Linked DNA regions of Homo sapiens. The protein of the gene in region 5 purifies or fractionates together with the protein of the main gene of each other region. This does not show direct contact. Each region holds a gene or a part of one and is shown on either strand. Other genes may lie near its edges. The genes, in order: PGD, ACAT1, OSBPL8, NPEPPS, MYLK, ME2 and MYL9.

The links.
Region 1: the proteins of MYLK (region 5) and PGD purify together in Homo sapiens (affinity purification with mass spectrometry; one large-scale study listed by BioGRID and IntAct). This does not show direct contact.
Region 2: the proteins of MYLK (region 5) and ACAT1 purify together in Homo sapiens (affinity purification with mass spectrometry; one large-scale study listed by BioGRID and IntAct). This does not show direct contact.
Region 3: the proteins of MYLK (region 5) and OSBPL8 purify together in Homo sapiens (affinity purification with mass spectrometry; one large-scale study listed by BioGRID and IntAct). This does not show direct contact.
Region 4: the proteins of MYLK (region 5) and NPEPPS purify together in Homo sapiens (affinity purification with mass spectrometry; one large-scale study listed by BioGRID and IntAct). This does not show direct contact.
Region 6: the proteins of MYLK (region 5) and ME2 purify together in Homo sapiens (affinity purification with mass spectrometry; one large-scale study listed by BioGRID and IntAct). This does not show direct contact.
Region 7: the proteins of MYLK (region 5) and MYL9 purify together in Homo sapiens (affinity purification with mass spectrometry, with the first as the bait; one large-scale study listed by BioGRID). This does not show direct contact.

Annotation. Positions count from the first base shown.
Region 1 is NC_000001.11:10,418,538-10,421,011, reverse strand, and holds the end of PGD (6-phosphogluconate dehydrogenase, decarboxylating), read right to left. Parts: intron 2,187-2,474; coding exon 2,087-2,186; intron 1,596-2,086; coding exon 1,473-1,595; intron 1,383-1,472; coding exon 1,263-1,382; 3' UTR 501-1,262; downstream 1-500. UniProt on the Homo sapiens protein: Catalyzes the oxidative decarboxylation of 6-phosphogluconate to ribulose 5-phosphate and CO(2), with concomitant reduction of NADP to NADPH.
Region 2 is NC_000011.10:108,135,067-108,138,566, reverse strand, and holds part of ACAT1 (acetyl-CoA acetyltransferase, mitochondrial isoform b precursor), read right to left. Parts: intron 3,426-3,500; coding exon 3,325-3,425; intron 1-3,324. UniProt on the Homo sapiens protein: This is one of the enzymes that catalyzes the last step of the mitochondrial beta-oxidation pathway, an aerobic process breaking down fatty acids into acetyl-CoA.
Region 3 is NC_000012.12:76,367,772-76,371,271, reverse strand, and holds part of OSBPL8 (oxysterol-binding protein-related protein 8), read left to right. Parts: intron 1-1,449; coding exon 1,450-1,635; intron 1,636-1,970; coding exon 1,971-2,058; intron 2,059-3,500. UniProt on the Homo sapiens protein: Lipid transporter involved in lipid countertransport between the endoplasmic reticulum and the plasma membrane: specifically exchanges phosphatidylserine with phosphatidylinositol 4-phosphate (PI4P), delivering phosphatidylserine to the plasma membrane in exchange for PI4P, which is degraded by the SAC1/SACM1L phosphatase in the endoplasmic reticulum.
Region 4 is NC_000017.11:47,529,904-47,533,907, reverse strand, and holds the start of NPEPPS (puromycin-sensitive aminopeptidase), read right to left. Parts: upstream 2,801-4,004; 5' UTR 2,608-2,800; coding exon 2,353-2,607; intron 1-2,352. UniProt on the Homo sapiens protein: Aminopeptidase with broad substrate specificity for several peptides. Involved in proteolytic events essential for cell growth and viability. May act as regulator of neuropeptide activity.
Region 5 is NC_000003.12:123,727,333-123,730,832, reverse strand, and holds part of MYLK (myosin light chain kinase, smooth muscle), read left to right. Parts: intron 1-3,500. UniProt on the Homo sapiens protein: Calcium/calmodulin-dependent myosin light chain kinase implicated in smooth muscle contraction via phosphorylation of myosin light chains (MLC). Also regulates actin-myosin interaction through a non-kinase activity.
Region 6 is NC_000018.10:50,920,618-50,924,117, reverse strand, and holds part of ME2 (NAD-dependent malic enzyme, mitochondrial isoform 1 precursor), read right to left. Parts: intron 3,458-3,500; coding exon 3,360-3,457; intron 3,045-3,359; coding exon 2,931-3,044; intron 21-2,930; coding exon 1-20.
Region 7 is NC_000020.11:36,544,519-36,548,018, forward strand, and holds part of MYL9 (myosin regulatory light polypeptide 9), read left to right. Parts: intron 1-340; 5' UTR 341-366; coding exon 367-550; intron 551-3,500. UniProt on the Homo sapiens protein: Myosin regulatory subunit that plays an important role in regulation of both smooth muscle and nonmuscle cell contractile activity via its phosphorylation. Implicated in cytokinesis, receptor capping, and cell locomotion.

The DNA.
Region 1 (2,474 bases), on a different chromosome or scaffold from region 5:
GGCACCTGTAGTCCCAGCTACTCTGGAGGCTGAGGTGGGAGAATGGTGTGAACCCGGGAGGTGGAGCTTGCAATGAGCCAAGACCACGCCACTGCACTCCAGCCTGGGTGACAGAGCGAGACTCTGTCTCAAAAAAAAGAAAAATAAATTAAAAGTTGGTGATTTAATGAAAATTGTCTCCTTCACTGACATTAGCCGAGAGGTCAGAGGTCACACTGTAGACACCAGCTGTCGAGGCACAGGCGCTGCTCGCTCCTCTTAGGCAACTCTTAGGACTTTAACACTCCAGGGAAATCATCATGAAGTCAAACCGCTGCAGGGAACAGTCACACTGGCCCCAGGCCACACAACAATATCACTGGCAGGTTTTATCTTCTCTGAGTAAGTAAGATAAAGTGAAAAGCCTAGTTTAAGGAGCCGGCTTAGCTTGTTCAAAATCCCTGGGCCTGGCTTAGAGCAAGTAGAGACAGGTGTGGGAAAGGAAATAAATCAGACCAAGCTGAGCCCATCATTAAAGTTTAATTCTCTAGAAAGTTTAGTATGAAGTATTTGACATACAAAAAGCCATAAAGAATGTCACGCACAGCTTGCCAGGAGCAAAAAAAAAAAAAAAAAAAAAAAAGACGAAAGAAAAAGCACGTTACAGTGAACGTCCATGTACCCATTGCCCAATTGGAGAAAGAAAACATGCCCAGTGTATTAAAGCCCCTGGTGTGTCCTCCCTGCCTGCCTCCTCTGAGTGAAGCATAATCCTAAATGTGGTTTCTTGTGTTATTCTAGTCTTTTTTTTTAAAGAAAAATCTTTCTGCCAATGGGGATAATGGCTCCATGTGGCCGAGGTGAGACTAAGAATCTGGAGAAAGAGCATCAGTCTGATGTAGCTTTTATTGAGTAAAGGAAAAAGGGAATTCAGCCGCATGATACAGAGGTTCCAGTTGATCAGAGTGCGCAAACACCCTTCCTGTCTGCGTGATGGGAACCGCACCAGCACACGGGGCACGCGGAAGCCACTGCCGCAAGGAGATGGTTCCCACTCTCACGCACATGAGCAGCTCCTGGTCAGTCCCAAGAGGCAAGGGCAGAGGGCATGGTGGCTCTCACAGAGCTACTTTACAAATAAACTGTGTGTCTTCCTCAGGAGTCTCTTACAACACTTTTAAAAAACTGAACAGAAAATAGGGCAAAGGGCCAGGTGGCAGTGCCATGAGGCACATGGAATGTCCTGGTCTGTGGAATCGTGGAGGGTGACAGGAGCAGCATGATCAGGCATTGTATGACGAGGATGACACGGTGCCACCATGGCCTGTCCAGTTGGTGTGGATAAACTGCCCTGGTTTGGCCAAGAGTTCATAGGTGTGAGCCCCGAAGTAATCCCGCTGAGCCTAGGAAACGAGAGAGTAGGTTGGTCAGGACAGTCCATGGCGCACGCCCCCGAGGGGCCAGCCAGGTTAATCCCTGCTCCACAGGCTTACCTGGATGAGGCTGGCTGGAAGCATCTCATGTCTGTACCCGTCATAGAAGGAGAGGGCAGTGGTAAAACAGGGCATGGGAATGCCAGCCTGGACCCCAGTGCTGACTGCCCGCCGCCAGGAGTCCTGAGCACAAAACGCACGGCCAGAGATTAGTGATCTGCCCCTGGTGACGCGGATAGATTTTCATTCATATCAATGTGGGTAAATGAAAAACTGATGGTTAGGCCAGGCGCGGTGGCTCACGCCTGTCATCCCAGCACTTTGGAAGGCTGAGGTGGGCGGATCACGAGGTCAGGAGTTCAAGACCAGTCTAGCCAACATGGTGAAACCCCATCTCTACTAAAAATACAAAAAAAAAAAAAAAATTAGCCAGGTATGTTGGCACACCTGTAGTCCCAGCTACTTAGGAAGGCTGGGGCAGGAGAATCGCTTGAACCCAGGAGGCGGAGGTTGCAGTGAGCCAAGATCATGCCACTGTACTCCAGCCTGGGTGACAGAGCGAGACTCTGTCTCAAAAAAACAAAAAACCAAAAAAAAAAAACAAAAAACCAAACATCACAACTGATGGCCCCAGGGAGGTAGAGTAACCATGGCACCAGCCCTAGGCTACATACCTGGCAGTTTTCAACAGCTGACTTAAAGAAGTCGTCCAGTAGGAGGTTCTGAAGTTCCGGGTTTCGATCAAATGCATCCTTTATCTTTCCTAGGAATACACTGAAATAATCAAGGGGGGAAAAAAGCAATGAGTCTTTTTTTTTTTTTTTTTGAGACGGAGTCCCGCTTTGTCACCAGGCTGGAGTGGAGTGGCACGATCTCAGCTCACAGCAACCTCCACCTCCCAGGTTCAAGCGATTCTCCTGCCTCAGCCTCGCCAGTAGCTGGGATTACAGGCACGCACCACTACAACCGGCTAATTTTTGTATTTTTAGTAGAGACAGGGTTTCACCGTGTTAGCCAGGATGGTCTGGATCTCCTGACCTCGTGATCCGCCTGCCTCGGCCT
Region 2 (3,500 bases), on a different chromosome or scaffold from region 5:
AAATTAGCTGGGTGTGGTGGTGGGCACTTCTAATCCCAGCTACTCGGGAGGCCAAGGCAGGAGGATTGCTTGAACCTGGGAGGCAGAGGTTGCTGTGAGCTGAGATTGTGCCACTGCACTCCAGCCTGGGGGGCAGAGCAAGACTCCTCAAAAGAAAAAAAAAAAAAGTAGAGGCGGAGATTGCAGTGAGCTGAGATCGTGCCACTGCACTCCAGCCTGGGTGACAGCAAGGCTCTGTCTCAAAAGTTCACAACCAGACATTAATAAGAATACCAGAAATCTGGCTGGGCACGGTGGCTCACCCCTGTAATCCCAGCACTCTGGGAGGCCAAAGCGGGCTGATCACGAGGTCAGGAAATCGAGACCATCCTGGCTAACAGTGAAACCCCATCTCTACTAAAAATACAAAAATTAGCCGGGTTTGGTGGCACACGCCTGTAGTCCCAGCTACTCGGGAGGCTGAGGCAAGAGAATGGCGTGAACCTGGGAGGCAGAGCTTGCAGTGAGCCAAGATCGCACCACTGCACTTCAGCCTGGGTGACAAAGCAAGACTCTGTCTTTAAAAAAAAAATACCAGAAATCTTTCATGTAAAACCATCTTCTGAAATTCTTAAATTTTCTTTTAGACAGGTCTCGCTGTTGCCCAGGCTGGAGTGCAGTGGCACGATCTCAGCTCACTGCAATCTCTGCCTTTTGGGCTCAAGTGATCCTCCCACCTCAGCCTCCCAAGTAGCTGGGACTACAGGCATGCACCATCACACCCAGCTAATTTTTGTATAATATTTTTAGTAGAGATGGGGTTTCACTATATCACCCAGGCCGGTCTCAAACTCCCAGACTCAAGCGATCCGCCCACCTCAGCCTCCCAAAGTGCTCGGATTACAGGTGTGAGCCACCATGACTGGCCTGAAATTCTTAACTTCTAACCCTTCATTTCATTCATGCTGCTAAAAATTTAATGTGCTCTAGAAGATTAGAAGTAATCTCAGTTCATGAAAATAATCATACTTCCTTGACTGAGATCCTCATCATCTCTTCCTGGACAGCTGAGATAATTTTCCACTTGATCTTCTGACATGCAGCCTTTCCACCAAAGCATCATCAACACTCATCTGACTCATTTTGGCTAGAATGTAAGTCTGATCATTTCGCACCTTAGATAACTCAGCATAATATATAAAGCCTTTACAGTATCCCTTCTCTCCCCTTTTTCAGTCTCACAGCCTAACCTATACCTCAGGTCACATGGAACTAGTTAAAGCTCTCCAGAGACACCATGCACATTTCACACACATACCTCTGCACTTTCCCCATCCACCAACATGTAAAACACCTACATTTCTCTTAAAACTAATCAGAACACTACTTCATGTCTGCCTTGACCATTTATTTCTATCCTTTCTTGAAACAGTTTCTCCTCCTTTGTGTTCCCCAATTACTATGCAATGCTTTTAATATTATTATATGTTTACATGTCAAGTCTTCCCACTAGACTATGCTCCTTTGAGGCCAGACACCCTGTCATATTTTTACATCCTTGGCAACTGGCATATATAAGTTTAATAAATATTAATCAACTTGTTACTACTTTACAAGTCAACAAAAAAAAATCACTTGCATTATAAGGGCTAGTTAAAAACAGTTTAATATAAAACATTAATGTAAACATAAAGCCAATAATATCTTCTTACAGTCTTTAATCAGGCATACAGACAAGCAAGCTCTATACCAAAGAAACATAAATATTTTGCCTATTCCGAAATAGAGAAATTCTTAATCAGTTCTCATCTAAGTTTTATTCACTTGTACTTTTTACTGGGGGTGATGGCAATAATAAGTGACAGAAAATAAGGTATCAATTCTTCATTATAAAGTAAAACTGACTGTTTTCTAAGGTCATAAATATTCAAAACAAAGCACTTCCAAGAATGCCTATAAGTCACTGTATATATCCACAAATGAATAAAATAATATTAAATGAAAGTATTTCAATATAGTACAAATGGCATTTGCTAGAGAACCACAATACTTCAATTAAGACAAAACTTTCCATGACAAACAGTTCTGAAACTAAATCTGGTGACCGTTTTTCACCTACCAGTTTGACAAGGGTTTGGTACCACCCAGTGGTGGTGCAGATCCAGACAAGTCACACAATTTTTGGAAAGTCTAACTGGTACAACTTTTATGGAAAGCATTTGCAAATACCAAAATGTTCAAATCCTGACTCAGCATTTCTTTTAGGCATTTTTCCAACAGAGACCTGCACATGTACAGATTTTTTTAAATGTTTTGTTCACCACTCTATTTCCAATGACTGTCACATGGCAGATGCTCAGCCCTGTAACTCTGTGGCTGTCTCAGACACACTGAAAAAAATCTTCATCTGAAAAATGAAGGGCTCAGATCTGAGAGAATCTTGATTCTTCTGTGTGTCCAGGTCTCACCTCCTGACATGACAGCATATTTTTGCTAAGGAGCCTGTCTCTTGCTTGATCTCAAGTAAAGACAAGATATAGATCAGCAAGGCTAATTAGAAAGCCTGTAGAACTTAACTTAATGACTACAAATTAGTCATCAAGCCTGGGCTCAAGCAATGATTTGATTCCCAGGGTTAAGCACCGTGTTCTCCTTTATAATGAAAACCTGTCTTATTCTGGCAAATACAGTATTTATGAATTTTTAGTCACCCAGCCTCAGAGAAAGACCCAAATGCCTTGACTAAAAACAATTTTTTTTTTTTGAGAGTCTTGCTCTATCTCCCAGGTTGGAGTGCAGTGGTACAATCTCAGCTCACTGCAATCTCTGCCTCCCAGATGCAAGTGACTCTTGTGCCTCAGCTTCCCGAGTAGCTGGAATTACAGGCACCTGCCACCACGCCCAGCTAATTTTTGTATTTTTAGTAGAGACGGGGTTTCACCATGTGATCTGCCCCCAGCCTCAGCCTCCCAAAGTGCTGGGATTATAGGAGTGAGCCACTGTGCCTGGGCCTAAAAACAACTTTGTAACACAAGACACTTAGGCTTTTTTTTTTTTCAAAGAGCAGAGTCTCGCTTGCTATGTTGCCTACGCTGGTCTCAAACTCCTGGGATCCTCCTGCCTCGACCTTCCAAAGTGCTTACAGACATGATACCCAGCCTACGCTATCATTTTGACCATACTTCAAATGGACTTAGCAAATCCAGACACTCTTGAGCATGTGAGAAAACATACTAACTTATGAGAAAGAATCTCATTTCTAAAATATGAATATGCCTAGATTTTTGTGTCTTTTAGCCCTAGGTATTACTCTGATTAATAAATGGGAAGGACGGTGTTTCTTACCTGATGTCCACACATAAGACTTTGAGAGGCCATCATGATGGCTTTCATTCCTGAAGCACAAACTTTGTTTATGGTGGTACATGGAGTAGAAATAGGTAAGCCTAAAACCAATATAAGTCACTTTTGAAAAACCGATACTCAAACACAACTGCAGAACTTAATAGAGCATGTTACTA
Region 3 (3,500 bases), on a different chromosome or scaffold from region 5:
TCGTCTTGCTTTTCTGTAGCTCAAAACTACTCATTTTTTTCTTTCTCAATTGTTCCAGCACCTTAAAAAAAAAGAAAGAAAGAACGTTTTTGTTTAAATAAGATTACAGGACTAATTAATGACTCTTAGTTTCTACCTGGCAACAGTTTTCTAACCTGATTTAAGCATTAGAACTCTAGGTAAAGGGAGTGGTGCAGAATCTACTTCTGTTCCATTCTCTGATACAAAAGTAAAGTTACTGGATGGACTGGCTTCTATAGGATTTATTAGTTGGGTAATAACTAAGGCTATCATTTCTGTTCTTAAGTCATGAACTTCTTGCTAGATGGCTTATATTTTTGAATCAGAAATATTGTATACACATTCCCTATTTTATTGTTGTTATATCTTTGTGTTAAGAGAAAGAGACTTATGTATAAGAGATATTTTGCTAGGCACTTAGTACTTATTATGCAACTTTGTCCTCCCTACATGTTTGCACATACATATCATTCTCTGTCATGGGAATTCAAGTCTGTGTACCTTCCCTTCTACACTCAAATTTGAGGTTGTCAAAGATGGAAGAATGTATATGTACCAGTTCTAAAAATTCTGTCTCAGCCATAACCATTTGATGTTCTTTTTCCAGAGATAAGCTTTGCCAAGGCATACATATGATAATTTGTGAGAGTATATAATTCAGCATATTTGAAGATGAGGAAATGAGACTTAGGATAAATAACTTTAAGTGCACCAGCTAAGAAGTGGCAGCTCTAGGACTTGACTCATGTCTATCTGATCCCAAAGCCTTTTCTGGTTTTAACATGCTGCCTTTCTAGATGGGTAGGATATAGATATACTTTTATTTAACAGAAGAAAGAACTAGTAGGGGAAATCATTTTACCTCAGTAGTCTTTTCTGTTAAACCAGTGGTTCTCAACACTAGCAATACATTAAAATATTTTGGGGAAACATTTAAAAAATATATCAATACTTGCGCCTGACCCCAGAGATTCTGATTATAAAAATTCTCTGATAATTCATGGATCCAAACTTCAGAAGCACTGCATTACATTAATGGATCTTTATGAAGCCAGTGAATCTTAAACAGTGTAAGACGCATCTAGGAAGCTTGCTAAAAGCGTAGATTCCTGAGCTTTACCTTCATTACATCCTATCATCTTGAGCCAGCAACACTTCAACACTTACTATCATGAGTTTAAGAGTCTATGTAGTAAGTTTCTCTTGCCAAGTAAAAAAAATTAGTCTCCACTTATGAACAGGTCTCTCTCTACTCAAGGGACTGGATTTATATCTTGACTCATTTCTAAGCCTATGAGCATAAGTGTTGTCAAAGCCAGAAATTCATGTGAGCATTATTTTCTCTACAAGGGATTTGAGGCCTATTCTATATAGATTTTATTTTCTGTTACATTTTTAATACTTTTAATATTTTCGCACATGTATTAGACTCTGGCAACGGGTAACTCGAGCCATAAATGCCAAAGACCAAACTGAAGCTACCCAAGAGAAGTATGTTTTGGAAGAAGCTCAAAGACAAGCTGCCAGGGATCGGAAAACAAAAAATGAAGAGTGGTCTTGCAAATTATTTGAACTTGATCCACTCACAGGAGAATGGCATTACAAGTTTGCAGAGTAAGTAACTTAAAATAGTTTATTTCAAACAATGTATTAGCATGGTTTGTTGCCTTTATTTCTAGAATATTTGTTGCTGGAGTAGTTTTTATTTAATTAAACCATGTATATTAGTGTGAGATTTTTAAACTTGGTTTTGCATTCATTATAAGCTTGACTCTATGATAGAAGTTAGCCTATAAAATAAGTTGAGGATCTGAAGATTAGGTATGGGGAAATCTCATTATTAGAACTATGTATATAATTATTAATAAAATTGGATCATAGAATAGAAAGTTTTAAAGTTCTTTGTTTAGTCATTGAGCAAATGGTTTTTTTTTTTTTCATTTATGTAGTACCCGACCATGGGACCCACTTAATGATATGATACAGTTTGAAAAAGATGGTGTTATTCAGACCAAAGTGAAACATCGTACTCCAATGGTATGTAATAAAAAACTAGGTACACTAGGTATATAAATCTGTTAAATCTTTAGTATCTATAGCAACCAACTAAAATTTGGTTTCAAAATTTAAAATTTTGGGTGAGCAAAATACGCAGCTCTGAACTCTTCTTACCCCAAAGAAACATCAGAAAACAAGCAAAAACTGTCAACTCAATTTGCCAGAACTCTGGAAAACAGTCAGAGGTGTTCAGCAACCAAGTGAACACTGGTCAAGAAAGTGCAAAGAGAGGAAAGCTTTGTGGCATTTTACCTGCCCTTGCCCCAGGTCCATCCCAGTGCAGTAGCAGTCTTGAAGAGCCCCTGCGTTGCCAGTGTAAGTCCCTAGTTCCAGAAGGAGCAGAGTGGACCTCATACACAATTGTGTATGTCTGTCCTAACCTGTCAGAATACTACCTGAAGGACTTACACAGGCACTCATCTCTGAGAAAATCAATAAAGACAAATTATTCAAGGGAGCCAAACAAATTCTGGAGCTGAAAAGTATAACAAAAATGAAAATTCACTAGAGGTATTCAAAAGCAGATATAAGCAAGCATAAGACAGGATCAGGAAACTTAGAGATAAGACCATAAAAATTATCCAGTCTGAGGAGGAGAAAGAAAAATGAATGAAGTGAGGTGAACAGAGCCTAAAGGACCCATGGGACACCATCAAGTGGGTTATCATTGCATTATGGGAGTTCCACAAAGAGAAGACAGAAAAATGAATGAAGAATATTTAAGGAAAGAAGACCCCCCAATCCCCAAATTTGGTGGAAGATATAAATCTACAAATTCAAGAAGCTCAACAAACTCCAAGTAGGATGATCTCAGAGAGACCCACACCACAACAAACTGTCAAAAGCCAAAGAGAGTCTTAAAATCAGCAGAGAGAAACAACTTATCACATACACTGGGGATCATCCATAGGATTAACAACCGATATCTTATAGAAACCATGGGGGCCAGAAGGCAATGAGATGACATATTTAAAGTGGTAGAAGCAAAAACTTGTCAATCAAGAATTCTGTATCTGGCAAAACTGTCATTCGAAAATGGGGGAGAAATTAAGACATTCCCAGATAAAAGCTGAGGGAGTTCATTACCACTAGACCTGCCCTACAAAAAAATGCTAAGGTAAATATGTAATAAAATGAAACTCAAAGCTGTATGAAGAAATAAAGATTTTTAGTAAATAGTTGGACAAATATAAAAGCTAGTGCTATTGTAATTTTAGTTTGTAAGTCCACTTTTTATTTCCTGCAGGACTTAAAAAATAAATGAATGAAAAATAATTTAATTACATATCTTTGTTATCAGACATACAATGTGTAAAGATATAGTTCATTACAACATAAAAGCAGAGAGGATGGAGCTGTATAGGAGGAAAGTTTTTATGTACTACTGAAGTTAAGTTGGTATCAACTCAAACTAGATTGTT
Region 4 (4,004 bases), on a different chromosome or scaffold from region 5:
CCTGTTGGAATTCACTATTGTGTCATCTTTGTGTTGCCATCTAGCCTGAAAAGAATTTCTGGAAAAAAAGTGTTTTGAAAAGTTCATGCTACTTAAAAAATTTATTTATTTTTTATTTATTTCCTTGCATCAAATTAACAAGTCCCTGCTAATATCTAGTATATTACCATATGCTCACTCAATGGCACAAACCAGTCTTCCACAAAAGTAGAAAAGAGGTAAGGAGAAACATGTCACTGCTTGTTGTTCTATCCCGATACTTAAATCAAACTCACTTCTTTAATAAGTAATCATTTAAAAATCTGTACTTTTTTCTAGACTTTTCCCAAAATATGTTTGCCTCCAAAAATTATGAATCCATTTTGGCAACTAATAGGGTAAAGAAACAAATGTTTTTTTTAATGTTAGTCTTTTCACATAATGCGAACTCATTCATCACTAGGTTCTCTTTCCCAAAGGTTTGCCAAGTCACAAGACACACTACTGTTTACAATCCCTCCCATCTGCCCCTTGCCAATATATATCAAACACTCTAGTCACTTGGCTTAAGCCACAGTTTCCCAAATAACCTTCTCAAATTCTAATTTAGACCCAAGATGCATTCGTTCTGATTCATATTCTTAATGGAAAAATTTTAAATCACCTGATTTTCACTAAGTTCTGCCTTTTGATGCTGCCAAATCCTAGAGCCCTCTTGCTTTCACACCAGTGCTCCAAATGTGACAGCTATAGTTATCTATCACAGATAAGTATAGATAACTATACTTTTAAATTCTGTACTTTTAGACATATTTTTAATCTGAGTACCGTACCCTCTTGGTTTTTCAAAGACAACTACCAACATTCAATTCATTCGAGCACCAGTCTTCACTTCATTTCATTACTATATACACCATGTTCTTTAAGGTGGGAGCCTACTGATTTCCCCCGACCCCAGACTGCAGTAGGAAGAGAAATGAAACAAAATATATTTACTAACATTCTATTTACAGATAACTATCAAACAGTTCCCATTTTTATTACAGGCTTCCTATTACATAGTATCATAAATGCCTATTGTGCAGGATGTTTGTCGGGCATCTATACTGATGGTCTCCAAAATCAAACAATACTTCAGATAATGCTGCGGGAGGAGGGAGTGGAGTATGATTCACCAAAAACTGCAGTGAAGAGTAATGGAATATTTTCACCGGTGGTATGTTATAACTAATAGCTTCTTTCTTTCCTTTTTTTTTTTTTTTTTTTTTTTGAGACGGAGTCTCACTCTGTCGCCCAGGCTGGAATGCAGGAATGCAGTGGCGCGATCTCGACTCTGCAACCTCTGCCCCCCGGGTTCAAGTGATTCTCCTGCCTTAGCCCCCGAGTAGCTGAGATTACAGGGGCCCGCCACCACGCCCCGCTAATTTTTGTATTTTTAGTAGAGACGGGGGTTTCACCATGTTGGTCAGGCTGGTCCCGAACTCCTGACCTCAAGTGCGCCCGCCTCAGCCTCCCAAAGTGCTGGGATTACAGGCATGAGCCACCGCGCCCAGCCAGCTTCTTGGGAGAGGAAGGTACTGCTAAGCAACCATCACGGTAGCAATAAATCCACCAGCTTCGAAGGCCGCAAAGCTAGGAAGATAGGTGGAAAAGCGGAGATGGGGTCCTCCCGCAGCTTCTCTGGAGGTTAAGAGAGAACAAAGTCACTGCTGCACTGTCACTTGAGGGAAAGGGGGAGGGGGCGGATCATCTTGGAAACCCAGCCCCTGGGCTGGAGCAGGCGGGGAGAAGTCAGCGAGGCTGCCTGGGATTAACATTCTCGTTCTCACCCTCTCCCCCCCCTTCTAGAAGCTCCCCTCGTCGCTCCAACGCGGCGGCCAGAGTCCCAAATGACCACCCCCTCCAATCTATCACCCGAGAGGTGTAGAGAGAAACCAAAGAAAGAACTGAGTCAGGTGGTTGAGGCAGAGCGGGGACTCCCATGACCTCTCCGTCCTCCCCCAACACCCTCCAGCCTCCCCCGGAACACTATCAAGCCCAGAAGGGTCCGGGGCGGGGGGGAAAGCCCCACACAGGTGTGCTCGCCGGGGAGGGGCGCAATGGCCGGGCCGCCGGCTCCCCAGAGCTCCCGCAGCGCGGCCCCAGCCCGAGCCCCAGCCTCAGCTCCGGCCACGGTCCCTGCCCCGGCCCCAGCCCCAGCCCCAGCCCCAGCCCCAACAGAGCAAGGCAGAGCACGCCGAACCCGGCGCCCTGCGGCCGCCCAGCCCCGACCCGAGGCCCGCCCGCCCTCCCGGCCGGGCCCTGAGTCCAGCCCGCGGGCGCGGCCTAACTGCTCGCCCCGCAGCTTGCCCCGGGGCCCGAGGGTCGCTGTACCTGGGCGGCGGCCTCCAGCTTGCCCTCGAAGGTGAAGTCCAGCAAGTCGGGCTTGAGGCAAAGGCTGTAGTTGATGGGGGAGACATCGGCAGGCAGCCGCTCGAAGGGCCTCTTCTCCGGCATCGCGGCGAGGCCCAGGCTGTGGAGGCGGCGGCGAGAGGAGCGGCTGAAGACGAGAAGGAGGAGGGGAGGAGGCGGAGGGCCGAGGAAGAGCAGGCGGCGAGCGAGGGAGGGGGCGGCAGCTGCCAGCCACATCCACCGAGCGCGGGCGACCGCCGGAGGAGAGCGACCGGGGGAGCCTGGGGGGCGGGGGAGAGACCCAGCCGGAGCGCTAGGGGCTGGGAAGGAGGCGGTGCGGGCGGACTGGCGGGCGGGCTGCCTACGGGGAAGGGGGCGGAGGGGAGGGAAGGGGAGGAGGGCCCGCAAGGAGGGAGGGAGAGGGGGAAGTGGTGGCGGCGGCTGCGTGCGCGGCCCCGCCGGCCGGGCGCGCCCCCGTGGAGTGCGCGCGCACGCCTGGGCAGAGGGCGGAGCGGCGAGGACGAGGGCGCGGCCGGCGGGGCGGGAGGGCGTCGGGTTGCTCGCGCGAGCGCAGGGCTGGAGGCGGGCGCTGCACCTGTCGGCGCCGCTCAGGACTGGGGGCGGCCTTCCAACTGGAAGGAGCCGGGAAGGGCTTGATCAGAGGAAGGAAAGGCATAAGGGGCCCTCGGGAAATTGAAGCCTACGCAGTTGGTCAGTTCAGCCAGGGTCGCATGCATAAAATACCAGTTACAAGCAAAACCCCAAACTGGATTCTGCCTCCAGGTCAGCGAAAAGCCCTGACTTGAGGCTCTCTGGCCTTAGTTCCTGTTAAGTAGCAAATTCAAAGGATGATTTGAAAGTTTTGTTATAAAACCTTTAATAGCCGGGCGCAGTGTCTCACGCCTGTAATCCCAGCACTTCGGGAGGCCGAGGCGGGCGGATCACGAGGTCAAGGAGATCGAGACCATCCTGGCTAACATGGTGAAACCCCGTCTCTACTAAAAGTACAAAAAATTAGCCGGGCGTGGTGGCGGGCGCCTGTAGTCCCAGCTACTCAGGAGGCTGAGGCAGGAGAATGGCGTGAACCCGGGAGGCGGAGCTTGCAGTGAGCCGAGATCACACCACTGCACTCCAGCCTGGGCGACAGAGCAAGACTCCGTCTCAAAAAAAAAAAAAAAAAAAAAAACCTTTAATAATCTAGGTTACTTCAACCAATGAGATTTGGACTTTTGAGGGAGTGATTTCAAAAACTGTATTTTTGTTTCCATGATTTAATGTTTAAAATGGGATGTTTCGGGCGGTCGCGGTGGCTCACGCCTGTAATCCCAGCAATTTGGGAGGCCGAGGCGGGCGGATCACAAGGTTAGGAGTTCAAGACCAGCCTGGCCAATATGGTGAAACCCCGTCTCTACTAAAAATACAAAAAAAAAAAAAATAGCCGGGCTTGGTGGCGGGCGCCTGTTGTCCCAGCTATTCGGGAGGCTGAGGTAGGAGAATCGCTTGAACCCTGGAGGTGGAGGTTGCAGTGAGCCGAGATTGCGCCACTGCACTCCAGCCTGGGCGACAGAGTGAGACTCTGTCTCAAAATAAATAAATAAATAAATAAATAAATAAATAAAATGGGATGTTTCACC
Region 5 (3,500 bases):
ATCATCTGATTTCAGAACATTTTCACTACCCCTCCCAAAAAAATCCTACCCATTAGCTGTCACTCCCTGTTCTCCCATCCCCACAACCCCTGATAGCCACTAATATACTTTTTGTCTCTATGGGTTTTCCTCTTCTGAACATTTGATGTTAAATGGAATCATTCAATATGTGGCCTTTTGTGTCTGGCTTCTTTCTCTTAGCTTAATGTTTTCAGGGTTCATCTGTGTTGTAGCAGGTGTTAGTACTTCATTCATCCATGTGGCTGAATCATATTGCATTGTATGGGTATAGCATACAGTGTTTTGTTTATCCACGCATCACTTAAGGTCCATGTGGTTGTTTCTACTTTTTAGCTATGGTGAAAAGTGTTGCTATGCACATTTATGTATGAGTTGTTTTCAATACCTGTTTTCAATTTTGATGTTTAGACCACATATATTGTTGGGTCATAAGGTAATTCTGGATTTAACCCTCTGAGGAACTAACAAACTGTTTTTCACCATTTTACATTCTTCTAGCAATGTACAAGTGTTGCAGTTTTTCCACATTCTCACCAATACTTGTTATTTTCTTGCTTGCTTGCTTGGTTTCTTGCTTTTTTTAAAAAATGAGGTCTTGCTTTGCCAATGGGGCTAGAGTGCAGTGGCATGATAATAGCTCACTGTAACCTTGAACTCCTGGGCTCAAGCAATCCTCCTGCCTCGCCTCCTGAGTAGGTGGGACTAAAGGTGCTTGCCACCACACTCGGCTAATTTTTTTTATTATTTGTAGAGATGGAGGTCTCACTATGTTGCCCAGGCTGGTCTCAAACCCCTAGACTTGAGTGATCCTCCCACTTCAACCTCCCAAAGCACTGGGATTATAAGCATGAGCCACTGCACTCAGCCTGTTTTCTATTTTTTCATTATAGCCATTCACAATCATCTGACTATGATTTTTTTTTTTTTTTTGAAACAGGGTCTCACTCTGTTGCCCAGGCTGGAGTGCAGTGGCGTGATAATAGCTCATTGCTGCCTCAACATCCCAGCCTCAAGTGATCCTTCCCACCTCAGCCTCCTGGGTAGCTGGGACCACAGGCATATGCCACTATACCCAGCTAATTTTGTTTATTTTTGTAGATAAAAGGTCTTACTATGTTGCCCAGGCTGGACTTGAACTCCTTGCTCAAACAGTCCTCCCACTTTAGCCTCCTAAAGTGCTGGGTTTACAGGCATGAGCTGCCACACCCAGCCTGACTGCAATTTTGATTTGCATTTCTCTGATGACTAGTGATTTTGAGCATCATTTCATATACTTATTGGACATTTGTATATCTCCTTCAGAGAAATGCCTATTCAAATACTTTACCCATGTTTTAATTGCATCATTTACTTTTTTATTGTTGAGTTGCAAGAGTTCTTTATGTATTCTGGATACAAGTCATTTACCAGACATGATTTACAATAATCCTCTCCCATTCTGTAAAGGCTGGATTATTTGTCATGTGCGGCCACAGAAGTCCCTGCTTAGTTAGTTTAGTGATCACCTAATTGATTGGATGGAGAGTTCCTTAAATGCCTTGAACTAATACTTTTCCCAGCCTTTGCCAAGGGGCTCTGTGTGTGTGTTACGCCCATCTTCAGTGCTCCGGCCAGCAGTTTACAGCTCTGCTTTAGCCTTTACTTTCTGCTTGCACCAAAGCTCCAAGTCAGCCAGAGGTGAGACAGGAGGGCCTTCTTACATCTTTCCTGGGCAGGCTCACAGCCCTGCACAACCATTTGGGCTCCTCAGTTCTCAGGAATCTGTCAGAGCTTTTCAAAGTCCTGGACATCTCATTCCCCAGTTTTTCCTTTGAAGTTTTTTGGTCAGGCTCTTGTTAGCTCCGAATGATATTGCTGTCTCAAGTAGCTATAATGTTAAACAATTGCTACTGATTGATTTTAACAAACATCCTGGAGACAGGGCCATCCACACAGAGTAAACTTTGAGTCGGATTAAACAAAGACAACCCGGAAAATGGAGTCGTTGAAGGAGCTGCCAGACAGGGCAAATAGTGACCATTCTCTTACGCATGGGGTTTTTCAGGAGCTCTGAACCCATCCTGCCCCTTGCTAAGTGGCTGATTTTCACAAGTACCATAGGTACTGTCGGTTTTCAGAGTTACCCCAGAGCTGGGGCAAGGGGCACAAGAGTGAAAAAGCACATAGCTTGCTGTTCTTACCAAGATTCAGCTATGTTTTATTGTTGTTGTTGTTGTTGTTGTTGTTGTTTGTTGTTTGGGAGGGTGGAGGGGCAGGGTATTGTTGTTTGGGGTTTTTTGTTGTTGTTTATTGTTTTTACTTTTTAGAGACAGAGTCTCGCTCTGTCACCCAGACTGGAGTGCAATGGCGTGATCATAGCTTGCTACAGCCTCAAACTCTTGGGCTCAAGCAATCCTCCTGCCTCAGCCTACTAAGTGAGACTACAGGCACATGCCATCATGCCTGGCTAATATTTTAATTTTATTTTTTTTGGTAGAGACAAGAGTCTTGCTATGTTTCCCAGGCTGGTTTCAAACTTCTGGCTCAAGCAGTCCTTCTGCCTTGGCCTACCAAAGTGCTGAGATTAAAGACTTGAGCCACCACTCCTGGATGTTTGTTTGTTTTTATTGAATGCTCCTCAGAATGTTGCAAGCCTGTGGTTAATTTCTGGCATTCTGAAACCGTTGCTTTTGACTCTTTTTGCCAGTATTGTTGTTGCTTTTATGGAGGAGTAGATCTTCAGAGGTCTTTACTTTGCCATTCCACATCCTATCTTCTTGATGAAGACACTCGCTTTTCTAAAACTTCTCCAGTTCCTAAACATCCTAGCTAATTCTTGGCAGATGAGTTTACCATGAAGCAGGTCATCTGATGGGTGTTCTTTTAGCTCCTCCTACATACTTCTCTCTTTCTGTTTTCCTATACTACAGAATACCTGTCTGTTTCCCTTCCCAAGACTTCTCTTTCTGTCCCTTCCCATCTTCACAAGGATCTGATCTAACAATGATTTACTCTCTCACCACTTCTTCAATCTTTCCCCTTCCCTTATTGAGAGACCTCTTTTTTCTCCCTACAAGCATGCTGTAGTTGTCCCTATGCTGAAAAAGGAAAGAAAATCTTCCTTCCACTTGAGAGCCCCTGCAGCTCCTACTCTATCCCTCCACTCTCTTTCATCCCTAGACTATATTTGCCTCAAGTAGAGTCTCTATGCACAGCTTCTACTTGATAATAACAGCTAACACTCACTGAGGATGTGCTATGCTGGGTTTTGTGCTAAATGCTCTACCTGAATTGTTTCATTTAGTTATCCCAACAATCTTACAAGAAAATCATACCCATTTCCTAGATAAGAATACTGATCTTTAGTAAGGTTAAATGACTTGTCCAAGTTCACATGCCTTGTAAAAGAGAGCATATTTCTAACCCAAACTGACCTGGCATGAAAGCCTATATCCTTTTTTGATAACTCCCAAAGGCATTTCTCTAATGAGGGAGTTCAA
Region 6 (3,500 bases), on a different chromosome or scaffold from region 5:
TCTATTTTTGCTTTCCGTCCCTAAATTTTGAGATAAAATACAGTATTTTTTTAGTCAATGCATATTAAAGATGAAATAAAAAGACATCATTATGAGTTACACATTGTTTCTACAATAGAAATGTCTTTTCATTTTCATTTACTTTCCTCTTCAACCCATACCTTCCAACTCTATCTTCATCATGTCCATAAACTCAAATATAAAACAAAAATCAAATCTACCATTATTCCTAGAAACTTTCTAGTTCCTCTCAAAAATGCATTTACACTATGAGGTCTTCCTAAGTCCAATGTGGCACAAAAGCCTACAGTCCTTTATCTGGGGTAGATGAGTTTTGGAATTAAGAAATTTTCATATTTAATTTAATTTGATTTATTTATTTTGAAATGGGGTATCACTCTGTCGCCCAGACTTGAGTGCAGTGGCAGCCTCTACCTCCCCGGGCTCAGGTGATCCTCCCACCTCAGCCTCCAGAGTAGCTGGAACTATGGGCACACACCACCATGCCCGGATGATTTTTTTGTAGAGATGGGGTTTTGCCATCTTGCCCAGGCTGGTCTCAAACTCCTGGGCTCAAGTGATCCGTCCACCTCAGCTTCCCAAAGTGGGAAGCTGAGCCACCACATGCATGAGCCACCACTCCTGGCTGAGAATTTTTCATATTTTAGAAATACAATATGGCGTATATCAAATATTACATATTCTCCCTCCCAACAGATACTCCACAACTGAACAAACTTATGAATAGTCACATCAAGTACAAAAGGTTAAGATTACAAAGAGCTTCTTATTAGTTTGAGTCAGGTTTCGCTTCTAGGTAAATTCAAGGCAATCAGATTGGTCACAAAAATAAATTTTGGAAAAAATTTTGGAATTTCAAAGCCTTTAGGATTTCAGAATTGCAGACAGACACCATGGACTTGCACTACCAAGAGTTCAGAAACAAGAGGAACAGGGAATTCTGGTTAAAGATGGCTGAATGAAGAAACATGCTTTCCTTTCCAAATCCCAGGTCAAAAACCATAAAAGTTAAATTTGTAGTAATGCCACAAAGCCAGAAGAGATACCACTGACAGACTAGAACAATGAAGAATTTCTCAAAGATTTAAGGCAGACAAAAACATACTGAATGCAAAAACCAACTGAGAACTCATATTCTTATTTTGGTAAAAAAGAAGACTTCTGAAAAAGTGTATTTCCATCAGAACTCCAAGATAACTCCAGATAAGAAACTGCAGGGGTTAGTAAAGCAGGACACTATCATCAATCGGCTGAGAAAACCAGGCTGAGCAAACAGTGACATAAGAAGCCACTGTTTTCAAAGTTTCAAAATGAAGGGCAGTGTTTAGGATCACCAGGAGACACTGGAAGCCTAATGCCCATAGGCCAAGCTACCTGCACACTGGAAAAGAAATATATAATCTGATGATGAATATGGAGATGGACAGGGTTCTCACTTTGTGCTAAGTAAACACATTGTAGCTACCAATACTGTGTTAGACCTGACCTACCAATATGCTAAAGAATCACAACATATTTGATGAAAACCAACATTACAAAAAGAAGTACCAAACTAACTGTGTACTAGTCAAAACATACATCCCCCAATAGCCTTCTAAATATGTGATGTTTTATCCTTGTGCCTTACATACTAGTAAATATGGTAGTTACAGCCTCTTTGGGAGGCAGCACAGTTTAATTATTCAGAGCACAGGCTTCGCAGTCAGGATACTTGGTTTTGAATCCTACCTCCGTCACTTATAAGCTGATGACTTTGGAAAACTCCCTCGACCTTTTAAACTGTTTCTTCATTTGTAAAACTTCACAGGATTTTTTGAGATGATTAAAGGAGATAATACATGTAAAGTCTTATAACAATGTCTGGTATATAACTACTATTACATTTTAAATTACATGTAGTTTGAGCACTCAAGATTTTTCATTCACATACTTTAACTTTTCATTTTATTTTTTGTACTAATAGAATACTGGTTCTAATTAACAAGAAAAGATTTTAGAACTGGAACAAAGTACATTTAGATAGCTTGCTCCACAGACATAAATGCCAAGCGACAGCTATACCATTATATTTTAATGTGTACATACAAAAATATAACAGCATTGTGTACTGGATTGGTTTAACTATGGAACAGTTTACTTATATTCAATGTGTTACACAGAAGATATATGACATTCTTAAGCTAGTGAAAATGGTAATCAATGCTAACAAAGGTAGTCAGGCCCAAAGGTACTAAGTTAATCTGGGAGATAAGCTCTTTATTATCCATAAATTGGTTTCAGGAGCACATGCTTTTTTCCTGGGGATAGGGTCCACAGATTTTTATTAGATTTCTTCAGGGGATTATGATCTCCAAAGGGTTAAGAATTTCTGCTCACGGCCAGGCACGGTAGCCTCGGGAGGCTCAGGCAGGAGAATTGCTTGAACCCAGGAGGCAGAAGTTGCAGCGAGGTGACATCGCACCACTGCACTCCAGCCTGGGTGACAGAGAGAGACTTCATCTCAAAAAAAATAAATAATAATAAAATTAAAAGAATTTCTGCTCAAATATCAAAACTACTGCAATACTGCAATTTAATTAGGAAGTTCTCAGTTCCTACTAAAAACCTAGTTTTAGGAGTGTCAAACACGATCATACTTGTACAATGGCCATTTGATCTCTTAAGAGCAAGACAACAAAGCAAGAAAGAGTAAGTCTGATGCCAACATAGAGATTATTAATTCAATATGAAGCAGAAGTCTTTGTAAAAGACAACAAGACTAGGGACATCTGTTGAAAAGAGAGTGGAAGGTCCCAATTGGTATAATTTGGAGACTCCAATGAGAAACAAGATTTTAAGGAATAATATTTTAAAAATCCAACTAAAAATATAATACACTCTTTTGCTTCTCCAAATTTTAAATACCTTACCTTAACTAATAAACCATACTTGTCAAACATCCAGATTTTCTTTTGTGCCTCTTGTTCTGACAGGCCATTTTCTACCATAGACATAACTATAAGATTTGCAATTCCAAGAGCAGCCTGTTCAACAAAACATAAATTTTAATATATACTAGAGTACGATGCAATGCTTGAATTACTTTATATATGAAGATTATATGCCATAAGAAATATTTGGTTTATTTTTCCCTTACAAATCAAACAAAAATTCTTCGTGATATTCTCTCGAAACATATTTTAAATTACATGTTTTACAGCAGAACTCTTGATTTCATATCCTCTACCTCAACAAAATTACAGGCTCACTATGCTCTTTCATAAACATCAATATTCTGCCCATTTTCTAATTCTATAAGAGAGGATAGGCTTAAGTTTCAAAAAGCCTTCAAAACTTACCTCTCCTGCTCCAAGGAATAAGATTTTGTGTTCGGAGATTGGTTTACTAATAACTTTTTGTGCTGCAAGAAGACCTGCTAGAGCTACTGCAGCTGTCCCTGTAAGAAAAACAAAGATTTTTACAAATAAAAAATGGGCACA
Region 7 (3,500 bases), on a different chromosome or scaffold from region 5:
CCTAAGTGTTTTACCCAAACAGTCACAGCCAAAATAGCTGATTCCATGCCCGGCACTGTTCCAGGAGCTCTCGGGCACTGAGTCAGTTAATCCCTACTGCTGGGCACTCCTCATGTCTCCAGTCCCAGATGAAGACTCTCGGGCTCAGAGAGGTAGAGGAAGTTGTTCAGAATCACACAGCCACACTTGTCTGCTTTTGTGAAGAACTGGGTGGTGGGAGCCCCAAATCCGTGGGCAGCCTTGAATGCCAGGCCGAAGTGCTAAAAGCCAGTCTGGGGGAGGCAGGAAGATTCCCTGGCCCAGAGTCACAGGGCCACCCAACCCCCACCCCTTCCTGCAGGGAAGCCCCACCCACCAGAAGCCAAGATGTCCAGCAAGCGGGCCAAAGCCAAGACCACCAAGAAGCGGCCACAGCGGGCCACATCCAATGTCTTCGCAATGTTTGACCAGTCCCAGATCCAGGAGTTTAAGGAGGCTTTCAACATGATTGACCAGAACCGTGATGGCTTCATTGACAAGGAGGACCTGCACGACATGCTGGCCTCGCTGGGTGAGCTGGGACAGGGACAGGGGTGAGATGGATGAGGCCAGGCAGGCTCTGCCAATCATTTACAGGGCACCTCCTGTGTAGTGAGACGCGTGGTGTCCACCTTAGAGAATAGTTGCCATTAACTTAGTCCATTCAACAGGGAAACTGGGCCGGGCGCGGTGGCTCACGCCTGTAATCCCAGCACTTTGGGAGGCCAAGGCGGGCGGATCAATAGGTCAGGAGATCGAGACCATCCTGGCTAACACGGTGAAACCCTGACTCTACTAAAAATACCAAAAATTAGCCGAGCGTGGTGGCGGGCGCCTGTAGTCCCAGCTACTTGGGAGGCTGAGGCAGGAGAATGGCGTGAACCCGGAAAGCGGAGGTTGCAGTGAGCCGAGATCGCCCCACTGCACTCCAGCCTGGGCAACAGAGCGAGACTCCATCTCAAAAAAAAAAAAAAAAACAGGGAAACTGAAGCACAAAGCAGGTCCACCACAGGGTCTGAACGTAGACAGGCTGACTCCACAGTGGGCCTGTCTTAGGCAGATTTGTGCACTGGGCTGCCAGGTATCATTTCATTTAAAGAAAGGGGTCAGCTGGCCAGGCGCTGTGGCTCACGCCTGTAATCCCAGCATTTTGGGAGGCCAAGGCGGGCGGATCACGAGGTCAGAAGATCGAGATCATCCTGGCTAACATGGTGAAACCCCGTCTCTACTAAAAATACAAAAATTAGCTGGGCGTGGTGGCGGGCGCCAGCTACTCGGGAGGCTGAGGCAGGAGAATGGTGTGAACCTGGGAGGCGGAGTTTGCAGTGAGCCAAGATCACGCCACTGCACTCCAGCCTGGGCGACAGAGCAAGACTCCGTCTCAAAACAGAAAGAAAGGAAAGAAAGAGGTCAGCATCTAAATGAAAGTGTGAACTGCAGGCTGCCCACTGCACAGATGGGGAAACTGAGGCCTAGAGGGGCGGCCAGACCAGCTCCCCTCCTTCAGAGGTCACCCATCTCAGGCTCTCATAGCCTCTCTGGTCCCAGTGACTTCCTCAGGATCAGGACCTTAGAACTAACAGGGTACAAAAATCAAGTCCAATTCTCTACTGCAGATGGGGAAACACAGGCCCAGAGGCAAGGCCTCCACAGACCATGCCCCAACCCACGGGCCTGCCCCAACATCCCTCCCAAAGTGCTGGCCACAGCCAGCCACTCTCAGCCCAGTTCCCGCGTACCCCTCATGCCGAGTGACAGCATCCAGACCAGACACTGCCTGGGGGAGGGAGAGTCCAGGACCAGAGGACACAGCCCCGTGACAGTCAAGCCTCGAGCTTTGAGGCCAGAGAGTCAGTCCCTGGTAGGGCCCTGTGCACTTTCCTCTTCCTGTGAAATGGGGCCATGACCCTGACATTTCCCCACGAGGCACTGAGCAGGAGAACCAGGCAAACCTGAGTGGGAGAACTGACAGCACGCTGCCCCCGGCCCTGAGCACCAAACCTCTCCCCGCTTCTGGCCAGGCTCGCTTGAAGGCTCCCTCCCCCAGGAGGTCACCTGGCAGGAAGTAAACTCCAGGGTTCTTTTTTTTTCCCCCCGAGACAAAATCTCACTCTGTTGCCCAGGCTGGAGTGGCACCATCTCGGCTCACTGCAACCTCCGTCTCCCAGGTTCAAGAGATTCTCCTGCCTCAGCCTCCCCAGTAGCTGGGATTACAGACGTGCGCCACCATGCCCGGCTAATTTTTGTATTTTTAGTAGAGACAGGGTTTCGCCATGTTGGCCAGGCTGGTCTCAAACTCCAGAGCCCATCTTGGCCTCCCAAAGTACTGGGATTACAGGTGTGAGCTACCACGCCTGGCCAACTCCAGGGTTCTTATCTGGGGCTTTCCCAGCTTCGTGGAAGGACTGAGGCCTGGTGAGAGAAGGGGCTGGCCTTAAGTACCCCAGTGTCCTGGCGTCACAGCTCCTCTTGGGCCTCAGCTTCCATGGCCATCCCAGGGGGACACAGCAGGGTATGTGAGGCTCAGGGACATGAAAACTTCCTATTTCCAAGGCCACACCCTGCACCCAGGCCCCTGAACCCCTGAGACTTCATGACAGCCCTGGGTGTCCACCCAGAAAAACATGCACTGTGTTTGTAGCTCATATCCGTGGGTCTGCAGGTGAGTCACACCCTTATCTTCAAGTTAAAAACAAGAGCAGCAAATATAATAATAAGAAGAAGCCCTGCAGGTATTATCTTAAATCTCAAAGCAATCCTATTGAACAGATACAATTATTCCCACTTTACAAACAAGGAAACTGAGGCTCAGAGAGGTTAAGTAATTTACCCAAGGTCACACAGCTACCAAGTAGTGGGGCTGCAATAGAAACCCAGCAGTTGATTCCAGTCCATAGGCCTGTGCCAGTCATTGTTATGAGCCTTTTGCAACTACTGTCTTCACAATTCCCCTAAGAGATGGGGAAAACCAAGGTGCACAGCTGGGATCCAAACCCAGGCCTGTCTGACAGCAAAGCACTGTGTCTGGACTTTGGAGTTAGGCTGCCTGGGTTCAAATGCCAGGTCTACTCAAGTCTCCTCCTTACTTGCTGTCTGACCCTGGACAAGTCACCTGGCCTCTCTGTGCCTCAGCTTCCATACCTGTGAAGTGGGTAAGAATGCTGACTTCACAGGGTGGTGAAAGTTAAATGCAATAAGGCACGTGGTCGACCAGCCACAGCGAGCAGTCTGCAGAGGGTTGTTCTTATTACACTTTAGTGAGCACTGCCGGCTGCTGACATCCAGGCCACAGGAGGAAACTGGTGGGAGCAGCCAGGGACTCCGGGCGCCCACTGCTGTGGCTGCGCTAGAGCCATGCTTTCCAGTTCACAAAACCCACTACCTCCCGTCTCACACGGAGCGGTGAAGGGCAGGGGTGGGGGACGGGGGTGCAAGTTGTCCCAGCTGGGGACAGAGGGCCCAGGACCACAGGCTGGAACACC